2 separate regions of the Homo sapiens genome follow, and region 2 is linked to region 1. The links come from fine-mapping of genetic effects on gene expression. A gene starts in region 1. The other region holds a variant in brackets. All regions are shown on one strand. Distances are from middle to middle.

Evidence for each region.
Region 2: its variant is fine-mapped to the expression of DUSP6 in whole blood (TOPMed, PIP 0.91).

The regions. Positions count from the first base shown.
Region 1 is chr12:89,347,101-89,355,967 of GRCh38, forward strand. It overlaps DUSP6 (dual specificity phosphatase 6), which reads right to left and starts at 5,401. Exons shown (of 3, transcript NM_001946.4): 1 at 4,540-5,401; 2 at 3,488-3,925; 3 at 135-2,461. The coding sequence starts at 4,939. The coding sequence ends at 2,154. It overlaps POC1B-DUSP6 (POC1B-DUSP6 readthrough), which reads right to left. Exons shown (of 11, transcript NR_189589.1): 10 at 3,488-3,925; 11 at 965-2,461. RefSeq lists enhancers at 2,623-3,257, 3,893-4,527, 7,577-7,626 and a silencer at 6,347-6,656.
Region 2 is chr12:89,272,979-89,281,845 of GRCh38, forward strand. No RefSeq gene overlaps it. Among named protein-coding and RNA genes, the nearest start is that of DUSP6, 75 kb to the right of the region's middle. The variant G/A (reference allele first, on the strand shown) is at 4,345.

The DNA.
Region 1 (8,867 bases):
CTCCTAAGTTAGTGTAGACGACCAAGCAGTCAACTCATGTGCCATGTAGGTGAAAAGCTCATTCTTCTCCCCACTTCACATGAAGGGACTGAGCTCATGCAAAAAGAGCCCCAAATATAAGTACGTTCTAGTTCTTTTGATTCCATACACCTGCCTTTTATTTTGGTTTGTGTATTTTTACATTTGAGGTAAGGAGAGGGTAGGTCCCAAGAAAAATGGCAAGATATAAAGTCTTTAGCTTGAAAAGAAACTAAAATAATCCCCACAAGTTTCAATAAGGGTTTCTGACCCACATCCCAAGCCAGTTAAACAAAAAAGCACATTACAACAGGGATGACAAAGTTGCCTCCTAAGTGCCAATGTAAAATTCTAAAGCCATATCCTGACACGGTGAGGAAGCTTAGATATGCCTTGCCATGCGCATGCTAGGGGAAAAAGTGGAGACATCATTCTGGATTCAGCATTCTCACACTAGGATATCTGCAGGTAGAATTGCCCATGACAACAGACTGGAAAAAGAATTATCCCTACTTCCTCTTTGGCATTATCTCAGCATTATAAAGCAGAAGATCCTGACAGTGAAGGATAGGGAGGAGGTTAACATGTGGCTGTCATCTTGGTATTCTGCTACACCTCTCTGTGGTTAATATCCAAATTGTATTCCTCAGCAAGCTATGCTCTATAGGTTCATTTTTCTTCAGGGGCTTTAAAATCTTAAGCCGGAACTATACTCATAAGAGGTATTGTTCATATACACGGTACAGTCGGTCCATTCTAGGATGTCATCTTTATTCGTGGCAAACGATGAATTTCATAAACTGCTGCTGAAAAACGTTCTAGGAAAAGCTTAAAAGAACCTTGCCCTACTATGCCTACAAGTCAAAATCAATCCCTGAATGAAAAAGTTCTAAAATGTGTCACTTCACACATAGGTATAACTGAGTTTTTAAAAACACACATTCAATAGCCAAAATAGTTATTTATTAATAATTTAAGGTTTTACATTCTTATAATAAATTCCAGCTCTAAACTTTACACCACGAACATAATGGAGAATTTAACTCTCCCTTCTTCACAATCAAATGCATTTCTCTTATCAAATGGGTACCCATGCTCACACACACACACTTCCAGTTTTATACAAATTTTTTTAAAGGAAAGAAACCAACCCAAAGTATTGCATTTGAGGTGACACTCCCTGAAGAATTTTATACAGAGGTAATATACTGTTTAGCACAGCTGAAGGTTTTTTTATTCTTTCTTTTTTTAAAGTGAGCCCATGATTTGGTGTCTTTCCCAGATTATCCCCTTTGCGACAACACAAGCAAAAATATTTACAAAGGTAAGGCATAGTCAAACTACATAAAGAGAAAAAATCATGAGGAAAATACATGAAAAAGACTAAAGACTTCGCCATAACAAGGTCTTAGTGATAATAGTGTCCGTAAAGATGTCATCAGAATTGGTAAAGTCAAGCATGCTGCAAATATACCCTTTGGATTAGAAAAGAGCACAATTTTCTTTTTTTGTTTTGTTCTGTTTTAAGAAGTGGCATACTGCTCTTTCTCCCTTTGGATAATTTCTTTTAAGCCCATCAAAGGAAAAAACAAACACAATTCAAACAAACACTGTCAAGTGATTCAAGATCAAATATTTACAATAATCAAATGGAGTATCAGATTTTTTTTTCCAAACTGATACCACAAATACAGAGCTGAAATCTCTCTTTGGCTCCTCTATATGCAAAATTGAATTAGTCTTCATTGAAGACAATTATATAGTCAGTTCCAGATGCAAAAGGAAACAGCCTTACAAGGCCCTAAAGAACACATGCTCCTACCCTATCATTTGGTTCTACCCTATGCGCCTGGAAGTCCTCGAATCCCAGTCCCTGCATGGGTAGGCTGTACACATGGGTACAGAGCAAACCTACTGCCTGTATCTATACAGCATGTCCTGTTATTCCAAAGAGAATGGAGCAAATCTCTCTGTTAGTATTAACCAATTCCGCACTTGGTAACCTTGTCTAGTACAGACAGCTGGTGTCATTTTGACACCTGGGGCCACACACAAAGAAAGCAGCCCAGCTGATGCTGCCAAGAGAAACTGCTGAAGGGCCAGACACATTCCAGCAAGGAGGGGTGTGGGGTCTTTCACGTAGATTGCAGAGAGTCCACCTGGTATACATTCTGGTTGGAAGGGGTGGTAAAATACAGCTGCTGTGCTGGAACCCTGTTGTCACATGGGCTGCTGAGTCCCAGCGTCCTCTCGAAGTCCAGCAGCTGACCCATGAAGTTGAAGTTAGGGGATATGTTGGATTTTTTCATTTTGACAATGTCATAGGCATCGTTCATCGACAGATTGAGCTTCTGCATAAGGTAAGCCACAGTCACAGTGACTGAGCGGCTAATGCCAGCCAAGCAATGTACCAAGACACCACAGTTCTTGCCCCGGGCTTCATCTGTGAACACAAAAAGAAAAGCAAGATCTCAGCAGACTGAAAACCACCCTTTGTGAATGATCAGTCTAAAAACTGAACTTGAAAACATAATAATAATAATAGTTGTGTGTGGCAGTTGAGCCCTACAAGCAGCAGAAAATGTATCACTGAAATGAAACATGTACACTGGACACAATTACATATTTCAGATATTTTCTGAAAAGAGAGCTTTTGTATTAAGTTTCTGCCAACAAAAAACTCCTTAATGGGTGCATTCTTTGCCTCGGCATGTGAATACCAGAAACCCTGCAATATGTTCGTGAATGCCTTTTACACAGACAACCAGACTGCAAGGGTCTATTAAATTATGCTCCAAATGTTGTGCAGCTAACAATGGAGGTATTCAGGCATTTTAAAAGAGAGAGGGAAGTCACAGGGGACGGCCCATTAGGAGGAACAGGATGTCGACACGGCCTGAAAATGAGTTCCTTTGTAATAGGAAATGCATTACAATGCCTGGAGATTCACTTCTCCCAGGCTTCCAGCCCACAGTTCTTCCTGCTGGGCTCAGGTTACCCACTGTCTCACTGTTACCAGTATCACCGCATCATTCAACTGGATAACATTCAGCATTCATACTGCTTTCCAACAACTAACTTGATGTCCTAAAATAACTCCTAGATGTTTTTAAATTATAAAGCAATGCTGGAATTCCTGTCTATAGTGAGTACTTCTATCTGACCCTTCCCCTGAGTCCAAAGACTGGGGGGAAAAATCTGTTGTCCGATTATGAACGACTGTCAATGACTGAATTCAAAGATTCAAGAAACAGCGTTTCAAATACACCTGTGATCTGCAGCCATGTCAAAAGGCAGGTTTTCTTCCTTTAGCAAGAAGATAAACCAGAATTAAGGACGCTCTAGGAACATTAGAGACCTGCAGTCAGACAAATTAGCAAGCAGCAAGAACGATTAACAGCTTAAACTCTATGAATGGCTAGGAATTTTGCATTTAAATGTCAGAGCGACGACTATTAATTAGTCTCACCTATGAAAGAAATGGCCTCAGGGAAAAACTGGGACAGGTTTTGGCTCCAGTGATCCGAGATGGGGATTTGCTTGTATTTAAACTCTCCTGCGTTCTCAAAGAGATTCGGCAAATTGGGGGTGACGTTCAAGATGTACTTGATGCCGAATTCCTCCAACACGTCCAAGTTGGTGGAGTCTTTGGCACAGCCCAAGTAGAGGAAGGGCAAGATCTCCACTGGGAAGGAAGGCTGGCTGTTGGACAGCGGACTACCATCCGAGTCTGTTGCACTATTGGGGTCTCGGTCAAGGTCAGACTCGATGTCCGAGGAAGAGTCAGAGCTGATCCGCAGGCCCCCGAGCCCCAGCACTGGCAACGGCGGCGAGCTGCTGCTACACGAGCCGTCTAGATTGGTCTCGCAATGCAGGGAGAACTCGGCTTGGAACTTACTGAAGCCACCTGCCAGAACGAGAAAAGCAATCATCTAACCTGAGAAGCCGTAGTAGTTTTCACAGCTTGTAAGAACCGCAGCCCGGCGCAAGAAACACCACAAGCATCCTACGAACCCCCTACATACAGAACCATCTATAAGAGAAACACACTTTAAATGTGCACCATCGGGAATGGAACGAACGGGCCCGCCTCGCCAGGGAACCCTTATTCGCTTGAATCCGGAAATAGACAAAATGGCAACTTTTTGGAATATTTTGAGAGCTAAGATGTGCCAATTTGCATCCCCAACAATCTCTCCCGTCCTGCAAATCTTAATTCAAAATCGAACGATAGAAAACAGGGTGATGGTGGAGGATGTTCTGGCTAAGAAGGCGCAGAACCCGTTAGAAAGAAACCGCCGGTACCCGCAGCCGGAAGCGAGTGGATTCTGAGCCGGCCCGGTTCTCTGGTGCGGAACGCGCGGTTCGCGGCCCCTACCTCGCCGGCTGCCGGTCCCTAGGCGGGCAGCGCGGCTCCGAAGCTCCAGCTGAGCGGAGCAGAGGTATTTTCAATCCACGCGCCCCGCCCGCAGCCCTGCGCCCCTAGCCCTGCCCCGCGCGCGGAGTTCCCTGGGCGCGTACCTTCCAGGTAGAACGCCCGGCAGCCCTCGTCCTTGAGCTTCTTGAGCAGCAGCCCGAGCACCGACTCGCCGCCCGTATTCTCGTTCCAGTCGCTGCTGCTCTCGTCGTAGAGCACCACTGTGTCGGTGCCACAGCGCCGGGTGAAGCGGTCCCGGTCCTCGCCGCGCGTGAAGAGCGCGCGCACCGGCAGGTTACCCTTCTGCAGGCGCCGCAGCATGATGCCCGGGATGGCCACGTTGATGGCCGACTCGATGTGCGACGACTCGTATAGCTCCTGCGGCCGGCAGTCCATCAGCAGCAGCCGCTCGTTGCCCAGCTCCAGCTGCTCGTTGAGCCACGCCACCGTCTTGCTGATCGCCATTTCCGACGCGAAGGGCACGGGTCTGAGCGTATCTATCATGGGGGTCGAGCTGCGGGAGAGGGCGGGGTGCCTACCAGACGCCCCTCGGGGCAGGCATAGGCCGAGCGCACCGCGCGCGAAGCTGCCGCTCTCGGAGCGGGGTTTAATTCCGCCTCGCCTTACCCAAGCCGAGGCTAGCGGTTGGGGCAGACGAGACAGAAGTAAAGCCGGAGGTTCTCTCTGCACCCAGCTGCAGCCGCTGGCTCTTAGTGTCAATGAATCTCTCTCAATGAAGCTGCCCAGATAGTTTTTGTTCCTCCCCAGTGAATGAAATCCAATTAATTCGGACTCCGTGCTACTGAGAGGGGAGGAAAAAAAGTCTAGCGGCTTCTAATCCCTCCCTCCAAGGCTGCACCTCAAATCTACCCGGGCGTCTTTCTCCCCGGATTATTTAAGACTCGATTTGCTATCTCTTGGACTCAGCCTCGCACACCCCCTGCGCGAGGCAGCTCCTCAATGGATACAAACAGCGAGCGTCTCAATGGATACATTCTCCGGGCCAGCCAATGAGCGTGCTGCGGAAGGGGCTGTTGCCGTGGGGACGGGCCGGCTGGAACAGGTTGTGTTGATGAATTGTTAATGAGTTTGTCATTCACAAAAACGGAAAGGAATTTCCGCTCCGGATAAGCCCCAGTGCAAACAAGCTGCAACAGCGGGCTCGGCGGGAGGAAGGAGAAAGAAGGGGAGGCGGCAGCGGAGGAGGAGCAGGGCACATAAACCAGGGCACTTCAGTTGTCTCATGTTTCCTTCTGTTGAGAGTTCACACTTCGCGTCGGAACTTTTGCGCACCAATGGCGCAATTAGCATGCACAAAAGCCCTTGTTCGCGACGCTTGCGTTCGCGAGCTAGCTTTAGGAAAACTTGTGCTGACTTTTCGTTCTTTGTATTCCCTTCAAACTCATTTGGACCCAAGTTCGCCTTAACCCTCCCCTCCCCCAACCCCCCTTCTTTAGGCGGTGTGTGGCATTTGTTTGCCACTTTTAAAGGCCCAGCTCTGTTTGCTCTGATGTTCTTTTAGCCGAGGCTGTGTTGGGGCTGGTGAACTGACTGGGCTTTAGTGACCGATGAGGTGTTAAATGCTAATCCAACATATTTCGAAACAAACCAGGATTTTGTTGAAACATTTTAAAGCAAACAAACAAACGTCTGGTTGTGCAGAAAATCAGAAGAAAACCTTTTTTCTTAAAATAACATTTTATTTTCATTAAAACAATGTAGAGTGCAGAAACAAACTCTTAGGTCAGTCCAGTGCTTTTACTGTATTCCGCTCCGGCGGCGTGGGGAGTTACAAGCCATTGTTCGGGGGAATCTATATCTCTCCCCCCGCCCCACCACCACCATCGCCTGCTGGGAGGTCGCGCTGGTTAATGATTTCTGGGCAAGGAGCTCGGCTTCTGACGGGGGAGCCGGTCTGGCGGGGCTGCCTGAGCGAGGTGTGCTGGGACGCGCCGGGCCGGGCCAGCAGTCCCCGCCATGGGCGAGGCGTGAGGAAGTCCTCCCGCAAGACCTGCAGGCTGCGGGGGCTCGGCAGGGGGGCTCGACGATTGGTTACAGTTGGCAGGGAGGCATGTCAGAGGGGGCCTCCCCAGCCCTCTCCTGCCGCCGCCTCCTCCCTTTGTCCAGCGCCGGGCACTCCGGGGAGCACCAGCCGCGCCTGCGCGCTGCGCTCCCTGCCACCGCCCCGCCGTCCCCGTCTCCCCGCTTGGGCACGGGGCTGTGCGCGACGCAGTGGACGGGTGCGGGGCTCAGCGAGGGACTCCCGGGTCCATAGAGATCTGGGGAGGGTGGGGGGAGCAAGGACGAGTGCCTGCCGGGACCCCCCTGGCTCCTCGCTCCCAAGGAGTCGAGGGGAACGTCTCTACCGCGCTGCAAAGCCAGCAGGTAACTTTGGGGAGGTGCGGGCCAGGCCAGCGAGCAGCACTCGGCCCAGGCGCCGCGGGGCGGACGGATTGGAAGCCGGATGGAGGCGTGGCCGGGTGGGGGCCGCGGCGGCGGGGAGGCGCGTTCCCGGCGCGCAGAGCTCTATTGTTATATAAAAGTGCCGAAGCCTGCCCCTCCCGAGCGGAAAACCACCTGTGTGCGGCCGGCGCGGCGCGAGAGGGATGCAGCCGGAAGGCGCGGGCCCTAATCCGGCCTTCCCTCCCTAAACCCCGGCGGAAAAGAGGCCGCGCTTTGTCCCACCGCTGCCTGAGAGGCGGAAGCGGGGGCAGCCGTCCGGCGGGGTGCGGCTTTGGGGAGTGTCCCTTGCTGCGCTTTGCGCCTACCGTGAACACCGCGAGGGCGCCTAAGGTCGCGGGGTCTCCCTTCGCCCGACGCCCCGCACCCACGGGCATGCCTGCTAACACCCCCGCTGCAATTTGCATTTTTAGTCACCCGCCTCTTCCCTGGTTTGGGAAATGTAGGCTAAAAAAAGGCGGCTGCGAGGCCTAGGTTGCCAATTTTGGAGCTCTGCTTCAGGCAGGCCGCCCCTGGAGGAGCGTGTTCGACAAAGGTGGGGATTGCCGAGCTCCTCTCCGCACCATTTTTGGGCAGTCCTTGGAACAAAACTCGTATATTTCACTGGGTATCTTCTAGTTTCAGCCGGGGGAGGCCTGCGCTGGAGTTGACTCCCCCTGTCCTCCACGATCTGTCACAGAAGTTCCCACCCCGAGACGTTTCAGTCATTGGGACCTGGGGACAGGGAGGGAAGAGGCAGGATGCCCTTCAGCGGAACTGAGAAGAGCAAACCTGTTGGAGGTTCAGCACAGGACCTCCAACAGAAGAGAAAGGGAGGGAAGTTGGGTTTCTACTTTGCCTGTTTTAATACGCAGCTACTTGAGTATGACTATAGATTCGGGAGGATACATCGAAACTGTAGTTTTACCCATGCTTCTGAACTTTATCGCCAAGGGAATGCCAGTGTTTCCTGGCGCATTGATTAAAGTGGCGTTCTGACTGCTCAGTACTAGAAATGCTGCGAAAAGGGCTTCTGGAGTGGGACGGCCCTCGTTTGCATTATGTCCCCCGCTTCTTCCTAGGTAAGCGCCCTTAGTTAAATCATTTAGCCGTTCTAAGTTGCAGTCTTCCACGTCGGCATAACGAAGATAAAACTATCTGCTTCATAGGGTCCCTGTGACGACAAAATGGGTACGGTGAAACGTCCTAAAGTGGTGGTGGGGTGCTATTAGCCGTTGGAATTAATTTTTCATTCTGAATTGAGGACCTGTAAAAAGGCCTCGGCTTGGGGACACGGTTTGGGCATCCCACAGATGCCCCTTGAGGCTCGCTTGACAGCCCGCCTGGACTCGCTCATCTGCAGCAAAGCCCTCTGAGATACTACCCTAACCGATTTAATCCGTTCCAATTCAGCTGTCAAGTAAAGGGGGTGTTATCGTAGACCAGGATCAAAAATCCTTTAGCACAGTTATCAGAATGGACCCAGCTACATTTCTGATTTCTCCCTACTGGTCACCTTTGGAACACGCTGTTCTCCAGCCACAGCAAACTGATACAACAATGCATATTGGGCACTTAACTGCATGATGGGTACCGTCTTGTTTCTGTGTTTACTTGCATAATTTCGGACAGTCTTCAGAAAAAACATGTAAATTATCCCATTTACAAAGATTAAAGAATTTGCCCAAGGGCACACAGTAGCAACAGAGTGTCAAGACGTGAGGCCAAACCCTTTACAGACTCTTAAGGATGCCCACATGCACGGATTACATAGAGTGTTATGGACACTATATTCACCTCCACGTGGTATTCCCTGCCCACATGTGAAGAATTTCAAGGTCAGCATTTTGAATTTTGACCTCCAGGCTTTCTCCAGCCTCACGTTTTCTGTTGCATCCTCCATGTCAAAGATCAAAAGCGAGGCTGCTTTCCCTGCTCCTTTTACACACCAGTGGTTTTCTTTGCACGCAACCCTTCATCAGTCAAACATTCA
Region 2 (8,867 bases), 74 kb before region 1:
CTGGAGCATCAATGATATATAAGCATTACTTTTTCTCTGCAACCTCAATAGCACCTGTTATTTTTTGATTTTTTGATAATAGCCATTCTGATTGGTGAGAGATGATATCTTATTGTGGTTTTGATTTGCATTTCTCTAAAGATCAGTGGTGTTGGGTTTTCTTTCATATGCTTGTTGGCCACATGTATGTCTTCTCTTGAAAAGTGTCTGTTCATGTCCTTTGCCCACTTTTTAATGGGATTGTTTCTTTTTCTCTTGTAGATTTAAATTCCTTATAGATGCTGGATATTAGGCCTTTGTCAGATGCGTAGTTTGCAAATATTTTCTCCCATTGTGGAGGTTGTCTGTTTACTCTGTTGATAGTTTCTTTTAAGGTGCTGAAGCTCTTTAGTTTGATTAGACTCCATTTGTCCATTTTTGAAAAGCCACTCTTTTAAGTATTAGTATCATCCTTATCATAGGTTGAGAGTCTCACTCTACTTAGGGATGATCAGATCACATCTGAATATGGTATCAGTTTTGGTTCTTTAAACCCCTCTTTTAAAAAGTATAATGATAATAAAAATAACAGCAAATGCCATTTATTAGAGTGTCTGCACTGCATCAAGTGTTATATTTCACCTCTTTAATTAATCTTCACAACTTGCCTTAAACTGTGTGTAATTATCAACATTTTACAAATGAGAAAGAAAAACGAAACTGAAACACATAAATCCAGTAAGTGGTGGAGCTAGGATTCAAAGCTGGATGTGTCTGACTTCAAAGGACATTCTCTCCCCTTTCGTGCATGCTCAGAGTGATGAGACTTGAAACAATATCTAATAAGAAAAATGACAAGGGAATATCAAGAACACTCATAAGAACATAGCATTGTTTTTCAATGTTATAAAGCCTCTTACTAAGAAGATGAATCAGGATTTGTATGATAAGTATTAATAGAACCAAACCAAGGAGTAGAAGTTATATGGGGCAAGAGTACACTTCAACATAGAACGTTCTAGCAGAATAAGCAGAAGACAGAATAAGTATTCTTCTACTCTTTATGTCCATGGGTAGTGGAGTACTGGGGGTAGCGGGGGGGTGAGAATGGTTAATGGGTACAAAACAATAGAAAGAATGAATAAGACCTACTATTTGATAGCACAACAGGCTTACTATAGTCAAATAACTCAATTGTACATTTTTAAATAACTTAAAGCATATAATTAAATTATTTGTAACTCAAAGGATAAATGCTTGTGGGGATAGATACCTCATTCTCCATGATGTGCTTATTTCACATGGCATGCCTGTATCAAAACCTCTCATGTACCCCATAAATATGTACACCTACTATGTACCCCTCCAAAAATTTTTTTAATTAAAAAAAAAAAAAGATGGAAAAAGTTTCTTCAAGAATGGCCACATAACCACTTAGCAGGAATGTGGTAAAGTATCAGCCAAGTAGTTGTTAACAGGCGATGTTTGGGGTCCTTCTCAGACCTAATACAATCTCTAAAGCTATATCCATGCATCAAGGATACATAGGCAACAGGAATACTAAGAGAAGCAGAGGTCTAACAATTGGCAGTTATTGGGAGTCCTAGTAAAAAGTGACCAGCAAGAAAATGTACTGGATCACCAACTGCAGTGACTAAGATCTAGACTTCAGTCTCAGAAGAACTGGGGTTCCAGACAGGGAAAGAAAAAAGGCCACAACATGAGGGAGCATGGTCTCATTTCTGGTTGCTGAGCTACAAGTCTTAGGCAGAGTAAACAGAGTAAGGTCCTGTCTGAAGCAGGATGGCTCAGTGGCTCAAAGCAGTGAATGGTGTCGATTCAAATTTCTGTCTCACCACTGACCAGCTGTGTGTCTCTGGCCAGGTTATATTGTGAATGTTCACTAGATGTTGGTTCATATTATTATTATTTGTGAATATGGATATTGTCCCAGGATATGGGGCAAAACCAAGACTAAACACAGGTTACCTTTTTTCAGAAGATTATAGCAACATAGAAGGACATCAGTAAGCCATAGAATCTTCTACTTTTAAACCAGAAAATATAAAAGCTCTACTTCTGAGAACTGAGTCCTACTTACAGAAGCTTCTAAACTTAAGAAAAGCTAAGCTTAAATTGCAGTTAAAGTTTCCAGTCATGTTCTTTCCTTATGTAAAACAATTATATGTGTAGTTCAATTCAAAATGCATTCATGCATAGGGCATAAGGTTTAAGAATGTGGGCTCCACGACCATATTATCTGTGTCCAAATTCTATCTGGATAACTACTAGCTGGTTCATCTTGCCAAGTTATTTAAGATCTCTGGACCTCGCTTCTTTCATCTGTAAAATGGAGATGATCATAGTACCTACTTCAGAAGGTCAGGATAAGGATTTATAAGGAACAACAATGCCTGCCTGCAAAGCAAGAGTTGAGTTACCTATTATTATAATTCTGATTAATTGCCAGGCATTGTGATAGGTGTAGGAGACACAATGAAAATTTATATAATATATTGTTATGCTATGTTATATTACATTACATTACATTCTAATGTTATACTGTCTTATTAACTGTCTCACTTACTAGAAGCAACCTCCATGAGAGCAGGTACTTCAGATCCTAGAGGAGCTTCTGGGCTAGTAAAGAAGACAGATTCAAAAGCAGAACTCCACTGACGGAGTGTGGCGGCTCACACCTGTAATCCCAATACTTTGGGAGGCCAAGTTGAGAGAATCACTGAGGACAGGAGTTCGAGACCAGCCTGGGCAACATAGCAAAACCCCATGTCTACAAAAATAATAATAATAATAATAATAATAATAATAATAATAAAAACAAAAGAAGAATTTCAAATAACATGTGCCAAGTGCAATGATGGCTTAACCTTCCAGTGGGTATAGTGAGGCCAGAGTAGAAAGTAGCTAATTTAATCTGGGAACCCTTCCTGGATGAGGGAATGCCTAAAGTAAGTCTTCAAGAATGAGTAGATGGCAAAGTTCTGGTGGAATCTTTGGAATCTTTTAGTCAAAAGAGATTTCGCCCAAAAGGTTAGCAAGTAAAATCCTCTCCAGGTGTCCTAACTGATTTAGTATCAATAATAACAATAATCAACCATCAGATTAAAAGATTTGATGATATCCATTGAAACAAGAAAATCATTTTGTCTAATTTTGAACGAGCTGTTGCCCAGTGATTGACATGAATGTATTTCAGTTGGAAAGTATTGCCCAAATAATTGAAGAAGAAAAAAGTCACTGGAAAACAGGTAATAAGATTCACATCTTAGAGTATTTGGAAAAGGAAAGAATATGCAAAAGAAGCTAGCTTCTAAGTGGAAAAATATGAAATAACTAATGACATGTTACCTGTGACCCTGCAAGTGAACTGGATCCTCTTTAAGGGCAGCGGATGTTTCTTACACTTTTTGTAGCTCCAGCTCCTAAAGTAGTGCTTGGCAATAAAGGTCTAATTAATTAACACCTGAACAAATAGAGTTGAAATACTGGCTTTTTAAAAATAGGAAATGATAAAGTCATCTTTGAAATAAGCATAATAATTACCAACTTTTTTAAAGCACTTATTGCAAAGCCAAGCACTGCATTAAGACTGCACATGGATTATCACAATTTAGTCTTGTAAGGTCAGTCCTACTTTTATTCTCACTTTGCAGATTTGTTCACTGATTTAACAAATATTTATTAGAGAACTAATACTTTCCAGGCATTGTTCTGGGAGCTGTGGGCAGAGCAGTGAACAAAGGAGACTAAGTACCTGCTCTCACGGAGGTTGCTTCTAGTAAGGGAGACAAACAGTTAATAAGACAGTAAAACATTAGAATGTAATGTAATGTAATATAATATAGAATAATAATATAACATAATATAATAATATAATATGATAAATATAATATGAGTAACCCTCAGGGAAAGTGTTGGGCTATGATTGAGTCTGAAGAAAGTTCTCAACCAACCCCACAGGGAGCTCTCCAACTAGGATGGCCCTTCAGAGCTACCCAGATGGTTCCAGTCATGTGGACCTTTTTACCTCTGGAGTGACCAGACTTTGGATGCAGGCTGTGCTGGCAAGAGTACATGACCTTTCATGAGGTAGCTCTCTTCATCCAAAGGCAATTCCCAAAGAGGGCTAACAGACGAGGGCTGTCATTTGGCAACACTCCTAGCAGCTAGAGATAAGTCCTTCAGTCTTAACTATTGTGCTATGATTCATCATCAGTCTCTTGCCTACTAGAATGTAAGCTCCACGAGGGCAAATTTTTTCCCTGATGCATCTCAGGTGCCTAAAACAGAGTACCTGCACTTGACAAGCACTTCATAGGTGTCTGTTAAATTAAGGAATTAATG[G/A]CAATATATTATTCTATTATAGAACATACATCTAAACCAAAAGTTTCTAAAGGATGAGGTCACGATGGAATAGAATACGTTTTAATAATTTGTATTCATTATTGGCACAAAACTTTTCAAAATATGATTCTTTTTAAAGTCCTGCGTTAAAATTGTGATTAGTGATTTAAAAGTCTGTTTATAAGTTTAGTTTAATAGGCAATGTTAATGGCCATTGTAATGGGCTAAATTTTCTGCCCCCATCCCCCGCCCACAAATTTGCATGTTAACATTTTAATCCTCAGTAACTCAGAATGAAAACATATTTGGAAATAAGGTTTTAAGGAGTTAATTACGTTAAAATAAGGTCTTTAGAATGGGCCCTAATCCGATATGACTGGTTTCCTTATAAAGAGGAAATTTGGACACAGACATGCATGCACACAGAGGAAAGACCACATGAAGACAGAGGGTGACAGTGGCCATCTACAATCCAGGAAGAGAAGCCACAGAAGAAAAAATCATGCTGACAACATGATCTCAGACTTCCAGCCTCCAGAACTGTAAGGAAATAAATTTCTTTTGTTTAAACCACCCAGTCTGTGGCACCTTGTTATAGCAGCCCCAGCAAACACACAGAGCTATCATAGCTGAAAGAGGTAAGTACCAAAGCCACAGAATACTCAATATAAATAGAAACTTGGAGTGAGGACCCTCATTAACAATTGTGTGAATCCACATGCTCAATAATATTCTTGATCAATGAAAAAAAAGTTATGTTAATTCTTAATAGATCTGGCTCGCTCATTGCTTTTCTCTTGTCACATGGCAAAGTAAGCAAAAAGCCACCTCTACGATGGAATTGTACATTTGTTCTTACATTATTAGGTTTTTTAAATCTGCAGTTTCTCTGCAAGAGCCATTTTCTAGCTACTTGTCTATGTGGTGAGCATACATTTCGTTAAAACGAGATAGTGTAATCTGTAAAGCCACTTACTAAGCCCTACTTTGAAACTCTGAAAGCCAATAAAAAGGTGGAACTAATGGTCCCCTCCCTACCTCCACCTTGTGGAACTCCATTTCCCTCTCAGGCAAACTCCCACACTGTTCAAGATACAAGACAGTCTAAAATACAGACCTACAAAGAGTGCTGGGGTATGTCAGCACTAGGCCGTTCCATACGTGCTAGGAAGCTTAATCTCTTTCTTACATTTTCAGACAAAAATAAATAATATAATAGTTCTGGTATTTTCTCTCTAGACCCCAGATGATTGTCTGTAGCCAATCTCTGAGATGCATGAACCCCAATCTTGGAAACCAGTCTACTTGAATAAATAAGGAAAACAGCTGTTTCTTGAATTATTTCATAGACAAAAGCCATCTCTACCCTTGTTCTATTATGTGTAGAATTATCGAGGCCCTAAGTGATTTGCCACTCTTTGAAATGCCTCTTAAACAGTAAATGCCAGCCCTCACACTCCTTATTCAACGGCATTCACTGTCCTGCGGGTTGTACCACCTGATTGCCCAGAAGCATGCCCCTCTCTAGCAAGGACAAAATTGTGAAATCACTCAGCATTTCCGAAAGGAAATCTAGGGTCGAGTTTTATTCTTTGGTATTTGCATCTCTGAGTTAAACCCAGAGGATGCACAATTTAGAAGCGATATAATTGAATTTCCTTTCACCAGCCTGCCGGGGCTTGTTGTCTGTCACTCATCAAAGCCAATGTCTTTGTAAAAGGTTTTGAGAATCACATCTTAATGTCACTGAGCAGATAACATATTAACTGTTAATTGACACAGGAAAATGCCCCGGGGTTGTGTTCCTGTCTTTGTTGGGGGATGATAAGTGAGTTATTATTCATCAGTGCCATTTTTCTTATAGTTTTTAGTGAGGTTATAGTCTGAACTCCCCTTGCCCCCAAGCGTTGGTTTGGGTCATAGTGTCTCTGTTTGTACTAAGATTCGTTTGTTATTAAGTTATAATAGTATCTTTCAGAGTTTAAATGATTTTTAAACTGATTTTCCCTTGGGTAATGGTGCTTTGTTTTGTTTTAATCATACCAACAAAATTTCCTGGGAGGATATTATTTTTTTTCTCAGAATGTTTTTTAAATTTTAGATTCAGGAGGTACATTTGTAGGTTTATTACATAGATACGTTGTGTAATGCTGGGTATAGGCTTTTATTTAACCAATCACCCAAATAGTAAACGTAGTACCCAATAAGTAGTTTTCCAACCCTTTCCCCCTCCACTGTTTTTCGAGTCCCCAGTGTCTGTTTTCATTTTTATGCTCATGTGTACTGATTGTTTAGCTCCCTCTTACAAGTTAGAACGTGCGGTATTTGATTTTCTGTTCCTGCATTAATTCACTTAAAATAATGGCCTTCAGCTGCAACCATGATGCTGCAAAGGACATGATTTTATTCTTTTTTATTGCTGCATAGTACTCCATGGTGTATATATAGCACATTTTTAAAAATTCAGTTCACCAGTAATGGGAACCACAACAAAACAAAGATGTCCACTCTTATTCAACATAGTACTGGAAGTCCTAGCCAGAGCAATCTGGCAAGAGAAAGAGATGAAAGACATCCAAATAGGAAAAGAGAAAGTCAATTTATCCCTATTCTCTGGCAATATGATTCTATATCTAAAAAACCCTAAAGATTCCTCCAAAAGACTCCTAGTTGTCACAAACAATTTCAGCAAAGTTCCAGGATACAAAATCACTTTTTTCTTAGAATTAAAAAAGAATTAAGATAAAAAGTGTTTAGGTACTTAGGTCTAAATATTTGTATTTCTTCAAATTGTCTTCCATTCATTAAGGTCCTCATATTCATATATAATGTTAAGTAAAATGCACATACACCATTTTGTTTTTAGTTTTTTTCAACTCAATATCATTTTATGTAAGCATCAGTCAACTAAGAACTTGGGTGACTTTTAGTTTCCTATTTTTAAAATGGAAAGAATAACATCTACCACTTATGATTATTTTGTGGATTAAATTATGTTAACATTGATGAAATCACCCAACAAAATAAACTCAGTGAAATCTGAGTTTAATGTCAGTGTACTGATAGAGCCCACAACATTGTAATTTTTAAAAAGTAATTCCCACATTTTGAGACGGTTTATTTAGCTAGTTCATCATCAGTGTCTAAAAGGGAAATTGCTAAACACAATTAGTGCATTCATAAATTGTATTCCACATGCTTCTGAAAAGGATAAGTAACTAAAATTTGTCACTTCTCTTATTAATTTGTTGATTAAAAACACAAAAACATATTTATACAGTGCTTTGCCATTTGAAAATTTCTTCCATTCACCTATATGAATCTGTTATAAACTTCATAAGGTTGATAGATATTATTATCCACCCTTTATAGATGAGAAAATAATTGAGCTTCAGAAAAGTAAATAACTTGCTCACAGTTTGTGTTACATTTAAGTCTTCGCATTCCAAATGCAGCATTCTTTTCACCATAGCATACAACCTGGACACATTGCTCACAAGAAATAATTGAATTTTGGGGTTCTGTTTATTTTTGTGAGTTTAATAGGTTTTCAAAGACGCTATAACTTTTTTAATGTGTATTTTGTTATTTGCAAACAAAGCTGTATGATTTACCATATGTGAGCCTACTGAATTTTCTGTTATGTAAACTGTCTATTCACATCCTTTGAATAGACAGGAAGTAGAATCTTTCACCACATCCTCTTTAGCCTGCTTCTTTGCCCTTACAACAAACAAAATTCATTCCATCGTGCTCAGCTGACTGACAATAACACTTCAATGAAATAAGCTTGTTGGAAAAGGCCTTTTTCATAAAGGTAAGACATGCAACAAAAGTTATGAGAACCAATTCAACTAGAAACCTTTAGTGTACCCTGAATCCCACAGATAAATGACCCTCAGCGTTCAGCTCTTTGGAAAGCAGGATGTTTCTGTCTGTACATACGCAAAGTCCACCAACTTTAGTCCTATTTCTGACCATTTCAGCACTGTTCTGGATACCAAAACAGGGTTCCCATGTGTCTTTCAGAGAGGGAATTTCCTAGAACAGCAGCTGGCCTCCACTACCCCAGACTGCCCACACTCCCAGGGTTTGTCTAGAGCCCATCTGGCCTTTGAGTTGGGGGGGTCAGAGGGGGTTGGGCAGGGGTATAGTTCCCCAGGGCATTCATTCCATACAGTCTGTCTCAGCGAGGGACTTTTTATTGTTTGCTCCCAACCTGCAAGCCCTGCCAACTTCAGCATTAAAGCAGTTAGGCACAGTGATGTTTCCCAAAGGGAAAAGAAGGAAAAACTTTATCAAGAAAATTGCTCTCTTTTTAAACTCCTGACCTTATTAAACATTGGAGAGAACAAAAACTGCTGACAGTCTTAAATATGTTGAGTACAATAAGCCAAAATTAGTTCTCAGAGCTAAATCTTGGCTGTCTAACTTAAATGATTTAGTCACCATCTTTTGGAAAGGACAATATGAACAACAGAGTTTTCAATAGATCACTGAGACCCAAAAAGAAAGGCGGACTG